Linked DNA regions of Homo sapiens: all the other regions are reported to be linked to region 3. The links are microRNA targets in miRTarBase. Many come from high-throughput screens and were not tested one by one. Region 3 holds a microRNA gene; each other region holds the end of a gene's coding sequence.
The links. Region 3 holds the annotated microRNA hsa-miR-4789-3p (CACACAUAGCAGGUGUAUAUA, at 2,052-2,072, opposite strand). A microRNA usually pairs through its seed, bases 2 to 8, with sites in the 3' UTR of a target mRNA and lowers its output. Matches are read on the target gene's strand: a 7mer-m8 pairs with bases 2 to 8, a 7mer-A1 pairs with bases 2 to 7 and ends in A, and an 8mer does both.

Region 1 (3,188 bases), not on the chromosome of region 3:
TTTCCTATTAATATACAAGCATGTTTTTTAAAAAACTAAGACTATATTATATGTACTTTCTAATAAATATATTGTGACTATTATCCCAGGTTATCAAAATTTTTAGTAATATTTTAACAGCAGATACAAGCTATGGCTATGCCATTATTTATTTAAGATGCCAATGTTAGACATTTAGGTTGTTTTATGATATTTTTTGCTTCTCCTTTCCCATTGATTATTTATTACCTCAGATAAAAGTTCAGTCAATCCTCATTACCCATTTCTAAAAGTAGACACAACTACATTTAGGAATATTGCTTCAAACATAGCATATATATCTGATGTTGATATATTGCTTTTTTCATGTTTTCTCTTACAGTTCTTATAGTCATGAAATACCGTACTTGATTTGATGACAGAGATCTTCATTAAACAAGATCTGGGACAGTAATAAAAGATTGCTGCATAATTTAAATGAAACCTATGTGTATATAACTTTCAAAACTTCTTTTTCAAGAAACTAAGAGGCAAGTATCACTTCAAATTGGAACGTTGAGAATGTCCAATTATCTTCTCCCTTTCTAACAAAATGTTCTTTTAATAATTATGTTTAAGGCAAAGAGAACTAGCCTCTATTTTTCCATATTTCAAGGATCTAATTTGAAACTAGATACTTGCCAGTTCATTATTTGTGTATATAAACACTGATTATAATATTTCATATTAATATTTTAATGGCATAAGGACTTGCATTATTGCATTAGGGAGCGGGTCATGCTGGGGGTCAGGAAGCCTGTGTAGAGTACCAAATTATATGCTGAAAGAGATGCATAACCATTCTGTCAATATTTGCAGAAATATAGTTCCTTTCATATTACAGTTGTTTTGCAAGCAATTTCCACATTTATAGGTGTAACAAAAGCTAAATGTTGTAAATGTTGTTGCCCTCAGGTATAACTAAAAACATTCCAGTAAATATATTTTTGACTGTGTAAGAGAATGTGTAGTAATTTTTTTGGCATTGGATTATGGAAATGGAAATTTTTAAACAGTGTGAAAAAACATGGTATGGCATCATAAAACTGGAGATAATAAAGTTATTGAAGAGTGTCATTGGAGTATTTGAAAATGACCAATATATAGCTGCCAGTCATGGTCCAGTCTGTTTTCTGTTAAACTCCAATAAAGAGAGACCAGTCAGTCCTAATGTGAGTAAATGAAATTTACAGGTAACTTACTTACTCCTTAATTTTATTTTAGTTAATAGCCTCTAACTTCCAACTATCTCATTTACCAAAAGTACAAAAAGTAGCAAAACCATCTATTAATACTTTGAATTTTATATCTTTGCATTTCCTGTTCATCCTTGAGGAGATGTATGTTGCACAATCAAATTTTGCATCAGCCAACAGTAATGAGTAGTAGAAAGTCAGGAACCTATGTGTATATATATATATATATATATATATATATATATATATATATATACACACAAACACACACACACACACACACACACACGCACACATATGATAATCAGTCAGTCGGTAACCAAATGCTAGAGAGTGACCATTAACCTAAGCCTGTTTTTATAATGAAAAAATGTGTTAACTTTAAAATATGCCAACCTCCTTGTGTCTTTTAAACAAGTCAGAGTGAAAATACATTGTCCCCTAAGGTGTGGGGAGAGGAAGCTTTATAATAAAATTAGTGATTCTGCAGAAACTTGTGCACTGGATATCTTGACAATATGAATATAAAACTCCCTAAATTAAAAATAGGGTTAATAGAAATTATCAGTATTTAAATAGGGAAAAATGATTTTATGTTTATTTTATTTAGGTTTTATTTCTTTGGTCATCTTAATGCAAAATGAATAAAGCATAGAATCTGGGTTTGGTGTTTTTTTGTCTGTTTTTAAAATTCTACAGGATTATTACTAGGAGGCAAAAAATGCTGTTTAGAATGGAAAAAATTTGAAGAGAGAAAGCAGACTGAGACACTCAAGACACCTGCAAGTTATCTAAGAAGATCTAAATAGAATTACTAAATTTTATAGTTTGCTTAGAGCATTTAGAAGGAGATAAAGGTCTTACATACTATAGTGTATATTGTCTTTGGTCTCTATGCTCTTTGTAAATGTCAATTAATATAAACAGCATCTGAACAGCTAATAAATCTTTTAAGTTAAGATACCCAGAAAAATGAGCATTTTTAGAATTTCAGTAGCTAATAATTCAGGAATGGAAATATTTTAACTGAATGGACAGAATCAGTCCTAACATTTGTATGTATGTCCTTTATTTGAATTGGAACTAGGCTCATAAGTGGTTAATTTTCCATTAGTTGATGTAGAAATCTGGTTTCTCCATAATATCTACAAGTGAAGATGAAGATTACTTCTCAAAAAGTATCCATATTTCCAGTGTTCCTTTTAATAAAATATGCCACTTTTAAATAAATAATTACAAAATGTAAAATTATAAAATTTTTAAATTTAAATAATAAGTAACAGTAAAATTTTTTGACAATATATATGTCACTGTCTTTGTAATTTAAACATATTGCTGCCTGGGATATGGGTAACAGAATTATCACTCATGGAACTTTGTAGTAGTGATGGCTTGGTTTGTAATTCATCATTTCATCTTTCTTGGTCTTGATTAATCCTGAAATCCTTAAAATGGCTGGCATGGTTATGACTTTATTGTGGTAACCTTGGAGATATAAGCCCTCTTACGATCAAAAACAGAAGAAAAAAATATATTGTTCAAACTGATGCCAGGCCTACCTTTATTCCCTCCCTTAATTACTTTTTTTCTCATTCAGCTCAGATCATCCTGCACTTGAAAAATGAAGTTTTACCACCATCAAAACTATCATTATTTAACAACAAGTGAAGATCAACAGAAAAATTCAAGTAGCTTTGCAAATACTAGTTGATACTCAGTGAAATCACGTCACTATTTTGATGCCTGAATCCATACCTTTGTGATTTATGTTTAATTACAGAAGCCTATTGCCTTGCAGCAATTTTGTTGTTATAATACTGATTAATTGGTTACTCCTTCTTATTATAACTCAGTAATACCTGTGGTCATTTGGTTCCTCTATCCTGACAAAGTTCACTGGAAATTGCCCTCAGATTTTATAAACTGGGGGATTTCTTAATTAGATAAAAGTTCATTACTGAAGATGGAATATTA
Region 2 (3,188 bases), not on the chromosome of region 3:
TGCCCATGATCATGAAAGAGCTACCACTTCCACACTTTGGGCAGAGAGGGAGATGAAGTCCTAGGCTAATTAAATGATGGATAGGCTCCTCAAGTGTATGTTTTTCTAAGGGTTATCATCAATATGTGCACACTCATGGAAATGCCACCTTTCAAGCCACTTTAAAAACACAGGTAATAAGAAAACAAACTGATTAGTAAAAAACATTTGATTTCATAGACTCTGTTGCATGCAACCCAACTATTTCATAAGGTAAAAACAGTGCTATATTTTTGATAATGTCCCATTATCTTGCTTTAATACTATCAACAACTGCTTGTACAAAAGAAACAGCCATGATTGAATTCTGATTCTTTTTTTCTTGCTTTCTGCCAGAGTTTGCCAAGAACTGCTTTAGCCCCCAGCCCACAGCACTGTGGGGCTGCAAGGAATGCTCTATAGGGTCCAGGATTTTAAGAGTCAAGGCAAGAATGAGAGTAAGAAAAAAAAAAAAAAAAAGGAAAAAGGCTTACTTGGAGAGGCAGGTCAGGGACTCAGCACTTAAACAGGTTTGTAACAAATCCAAAGAGGAGAAAAGACATCTAAGAGAAATGTTCTTCCCTTCGGCAACATGATAAGCGAAACATATGTATAAAAAAATGTATAATTTCACCCAGTGGTGTGCTGATGAATGTTTATCAACCAGCAATCTGGAGAGGGAGAAAACCCCAATTTCTTACATATTGCTAATTTCTGTGGTGTAAATATTTCTACCATGGCCAATTTCAAGCCACTGTAGTAACAAGAAGGTAGTGAACATGGAGTTGAGAGGATACGTTCAGTAGCATACTGTTTGGTAATATTTCTACATACATACCTACTAGATGTAAATAATCTAAGAGGTTAGAAAATAGTAAAATGTAAGATTTTTGAGTACAGTATTTGTTACTTCTGTCCTTAATATAATTCATTCAGTTGTAAGTGCACATCATTTAATTTTAAATAATGGCTGTATTGAACAACCAGTTTGCAAAATTCTTGAAAATATAACAGTTGGCAAGCCTGTACAAGTTGACTCCAACACATCACACCTAAATGGGTGAAAGGGAAGGAAAAATCAGACTGAAAACCATAAACATTATTTACTATGTTTTTTAAATAGATAAGGAGATGAAGCCATAAACTAATTAAAGGATTTTCAGGGGCCAAAGGTGTTAGAATATTCTGCTTATGGTGTTCTCAAACATTAAAAAAATTTCAAGATAATGAGATGTTTCAAAGGACTTCAGAGACACAGATGTGGGTACTTACAATACAGGTAAATGTTCAATTTTACAAGGGCTATCTTAAACAGATTCCATGTGTTTTACAAGCTAAATAGAATAATATATTAATTATTTTCCTATTCACTTGTTTTATTGCTACTAGGCAACTCAGGAACACTCAGCTACTAAACAAATTCTGGAATTTGTTTAGTAACAAATTACAGAGAAAAGAGGAAAAAAAAGACAATGAATTGGAAGAAAGGGAGGGGAGAAAGGAGGAATAGAGGGTGAGTTGCCTTGGGCAGTGTCAGAATGTCACCAATCACAACCTCAGGCACTGACAGTTATCAGAGTTGTGAGCTTGAGCCAAAGGCTGCAGTCACCTGCTTCATTAGTTTAGCACTGCATTTTTACACCACTACATTGAAAGATTAATGCATACTACAATGCAACCATCTCACTTGTACTTTCACAGGCTTTGTCCTTGAGATGACATGCATCTGGATAAATAATTCACATTTTTCTCCTGACGTTTGCAAATGTCTGGATGGATCATATACTGTGGACAAAAATCTAGATAATTAACCTGAATGTTTATATTTAATCCAGTGATCTTGTTACACTAAAGACAAAGCAATAAATGCTTCTAAAATTTGCCAAAAAATGCAATCATCTGCATCAGACAGCCTTGATTAAGATACAATATTGTTGTTTTATTCAGGAATGTACTGTTTTAAAAGCTTCTCTCTTACTAAAATTTAGAAAATTTCTATCATGTTTGAAAAACTTTAAAACAGCTTTGTAAATAGCCTTTAAAGTCATGTTAAAGATTCAATTTATGTTGAATAGTCAGTAAAAGTAGGTGTGTAATTCATTTTGCTACCTGTGAGTCTGGCTTGATGCTACATTTGTGGGTTAATAAATAGACTTCTTTGCTACTGTTTTAAAGTGTCATAATGTTGTCTTGCTTTATGAAGATGACACTACTGATCTCCAATCAACAGGGCATGTGCATTTACTGATTTTTCTGGAACTAAGAGAGAATTTGTGCTAAATTGGTCACATTTTCACATGCAGTGAAAGATTGGCAATACTAACTTCTTATGTGGTCAGTAGAACACTTCTGATGTATTTAGCCTAACTCAAAGCTATGCATGTAAACAGAGATAGGCCTCTATCATAATCACAGTTACAAACACATATTATACACTAAATTCCTTTCAGTGATTAAAAAAACAAGTTCATGTAAGAAAGCAAGACAACCCAATAAGAAAGTGGTTAAATTCATTTTCCATGTCGTCACTCTCTAAAATCTGCATCGGTCCATTTGTCAAGTTGCCAGAAGTGCCCATGAGCAAATAAAACAATTGCATATATTACAAAATCCAAGATAAATAAGTAGTGCTAAAAAAGAATAACAATTAAATTATTAGTTATGTGGTTAACGGAAATGAACGAACTTTGATAAAATGGTCCTGATGGGGAAGAAGAAGAGTTTTTGTTTTTCAATGGCCATACCACAGTGAAACTTCACTTCTCCTCAAGGAAGTTTACCTTCGGTCTGCTTCAACTCTCTTCTTACGAACTAGGTAAGAAAGAAAGGAACAAAAAGACAAATTGAAGGGATATTCCTTAAATTCCAGATAAACAACATTAATCACATAAGATGACAATCTCACACACTTGAGGATACAGTTATCTTAAATTTTAATACTTAACCATGACAATCAATGGAAATGATAAATTCATCCAGTGTCTGGTGGAATTTACATTTAAATACATATATGTCTGATAGTTGGGTACTCGAGTGTTAGAACCTTCGAATTTCTATGGGATAGAAATTCCAGAAGAGACCCGTGAAACAGTGCACTTTGACTATTTTCATGGCCGTTTATCCACGGCACTTGCAATTCTGTCACCAACTGGCTTTAACTAACTCTTCAG
Region 3 (3,188 bases):
GTAGAGACGGGATTTCGCCATCTTGGCCAGGCTACTCTTGATCTCCTGACCTCAGGTGATCCACCCGCCTTGGCCTCCCAAAGAGCTGGGATTACAAGCATGAGCCGTCGTGCCCAGCTCATATCATTCTCAAAGGACTTTTGTAGCACACAGAATGGTTTCTAAATAATATTATCCATATCTTGACTAACACGGTGAAACCCCATCTCTACTAAAAATCCAAAAAATTAGCCGGGCGCGGTGGCGGGCGCCTGTAATCCCAGCTACTCAGGAGGCTGAGGCAGGAGAACGGCGAGAACCCGGGGGGCGGAGCTTGCAGTGAGCCGAGATAGCGCCACTGCAGTCCGGCCTGGGCGAAAGAGCGAGTACTCCGTCTCAAAAAATAATAATAATAATAATATCATCCATAATATTAGTTGATAGTCTCTTCATAATTCTAAATCCAGCATTTTTCAAAGCATTACCAATGAAGGAGAACTTTTAAGATGAAGCTAAATATAAAAAAAAAGTGAATTACTGCAAATTACTATACATAGTATAATTTGAAATTTTGGTAATATTGTCTAAGACAAATCATCCTTTTGGGATAGTTTTTTTCCATACTGTTCAAACTACCCTTCATCCTATAACGGCAGACATGGCCTAATGATTCTCATTTTTAATCAACAGTGTTGTCAGACATTTCAATGATTCTGAACATAATGTTATGACATTCAGGGCCAGAGAGCAAGCATTCTCTACTTGCTCTCAGCTGAAAGCAAAGAGGTTCTCAAGAGCTGCCAGCCTTTCTCCTTTATGCTCTGAAAGCCTCCTAAACTTGTCAGTTTACTTCCATTACCCTTTTATTGAAAACAATGAAAGAAAAAAAGTTACTACGGTGTTTATACTTTTAAAGTGAATGTCTTTTGTAATAAGGTAGAAATATCACAGAACCATCGAATGTTGGAATCAGAAGCATGTTTGGCATATCATCAAGTACAATAGCCACATCCTGCCTATGTGGAAAGCTGGAGGGGCTAAAGGACCTCTCAAAGCTACACATGTAGAGTCAGCAGCAGAGCAGAGCTTAAAGCAGCAAGTGACTCTTACGGCCATCAGTAATCACACTCTTGCTTAACATGCAAATGAATAAAGCTATTTTTATAAAATCCCTCCCCCCCCCATATATTGGCAGTAACTCTAAATTCTAGTCATTTTTTAACCATTACAGAATAAGATTAGAAGCATCAGTAGTTAATGGTGATAATAATTTCCATTTTATATGGGGTTTTATGGTTCACAAATATATTTTATAAAATAAGTTTCTAACATTTCATTTTCTTATATTGAGGGCTTTTAAAAGAAATAACCAAAACCTATTTTATTAAAATTTGATATTTAAAATTATAGTTGAGAATAGTGGAAGATTTTTCCCATTATCTTTGCTCTCCTGGATAGCAACCAGATAAATGACTTCCCAGAGAAATGCATAGAGTCATATAAGATAAAACGTCTTTTTTTCTCCATTTTACTCAGAGTTTGATGATGAACTATGACTGGATATTGAAATAATCATTCTTTTATCCTTTGTAGTAAGGCTTACTTTGTCCAGTGGCAACATGATCAGACAAGCAGCTCTCAGATGACATGTGACAATATTAAATTCAATCTTAGCAAGCAGCTTCTCAATTTCACACTTGTGGTAGCTGGATTAACCCAATTATTTTTTGGAGGTTAAGGGAAACTTTCACATTTGCAGAATACCATCCTTCAGAAACCGGAATGTAGGATTTTGTTATCTCAAAGAATTTTATGGAGATGGAAAGATCAGTTAGTATTAAATTTTAGCACACAATCAGATGAAGGGTTTAGGAAGAAGTAGATATGATTACCTAATAATTCACTTTGAGTTCTTCACTTTGAGCCTCAAAAATGTGTGAAACTTGGGACTTTTACTAAGCATATCTTTCAGGCAAAATATTTTCATTGTACCAGTTCCAAGCTCTTGGTTCTAACACAAAACCCCTGCTACACATACACACACATGCACTCACACACACACAGGCTACCTATATATACACCTGCTATGTGTGTGGATATGTATTTACACATACACATATCAGGTGTATACATACGTAGCATGTATATATACACATACACACACACGCACACAGGCACACACATACTTGTTACCTATATATGTATACATGCACATATCAGGTGTATGTAAATGTAACATGTATATGTACACACACGCACACAGGCACACACATACTTGTTACCTATATATGTATACATGCACATATCAGGTGTATGTAAATGTAACATGTATATGTACACACACGCACACAGGCACACACATACTTGTTACATATATAATTACACATGCACATATCAGGTGTATGTAAATGTAACATTTATATATACACACGCGCACACAGGCACACACATACTTGCTACATATATATACAGTCAGGTGCTGCATGATGACATTTTGCTCAAGAACAAATCACATACATGAGGGTGGTTCCATAGATTATAGTGGAGCTGAAAAACTCTAGTGGCATTGTTCTCATTGTGACATTAGTGCAATTACTTAATTTTTAAAACAAATTTAGTGTAACCTAAGTGTACAGTGTTTATAAAGCCTACAGTAATGCATAGTAACGTCTTAGGCCTTCACATTTGCTCACTGCTCATTCACAGATCCACCCAGAGCAACTTCTACTCCCACAAGTTCCATGAAAAGTGCCCTATACAGGGGTGGCAATTTTTTTTAATCTTTTATATCATATTTCGCTGTACCTTTTCTGTGTTTAGATATGTTTAGATATACAAATACCACTGCATTGTAATTGCCTACAGTGTTCAGTACAATAACATGCTATGCAGGTTTGTAGCTTAGAAGTAATAAGCTATACGACATAACCTAGTTGTTTAGGAGGCTACACAATGTGTTTGTGTTATGTGCACTCTATGATGTTCTCTCAACAATGAAGTCACCTAATGATGCATTTCTCAGAAAGCATCTCCATTATTAAATGGCACATGAACGTATTTGCTACATATATACATACTGGCTATAAACACACACACACACACACACACACTCACACACACCTGCTACAGTCCTTTCAAAGTATAAAAAAAGATACCAAAATGTGTTAGAGATTCGTTTGTAAAATGTAACTATTTTCGGACCAGATGGA

Region 1: the mRNA of VAMP4 is a reported target of hsa-miR-4789-3p. Seed matches in the 3' UTR shown: 8mer at 465-472, 7mer-A1 at 982-988 and 8mer at 1,421-1,428.
Region 2: the mRNA of TMOD2 is a reported target of hsa-miR-4789-3p. Seed matches in the 3' UTR shown: 7mer-m8 at 2,440-2,446.

The regions. Positions count from the first base shown.
Region 1 is chr1:171,701,708-171,704,895 of GRCh38, reverse strand. It overlaps VAMP4 (vesicle associated membrane protein 4), which reads left to right. Exons shown (of 8, transcript NM_003762.5): 8 at 362-3,188. The coding sequence ends at 390. Among named protein-coding and RNA genes, the nearest start is that of VAMP4, 39 kb to the left of the region's middle.
Region 2 is chr15:51,808,061-51,811,248 of GRCh38, reverse strand. It overlaps TMOD2 (tropomodulin 2), which reads right to left. Exons shown (of 10, transcript NM_014548.4): 10 at 1-2,829. The coding sequence ends at 2,795. Among named protein-coding and RNA genes, the nearest start is that of TMOD3, 20 kb to the left of the region's middle.
Region 3 is chr3:175,368,474-175,371,661 of GRCh38, reverse strand. MIR4789 (microRNA 4789) reads right to left here and starts at 2,122; the gene lies at 2,041-2,122. The region is part of intron 5 of NAALADL2 (N-acetylated alpha-linked acidic dipeptidase like 2); the gene reads right to left.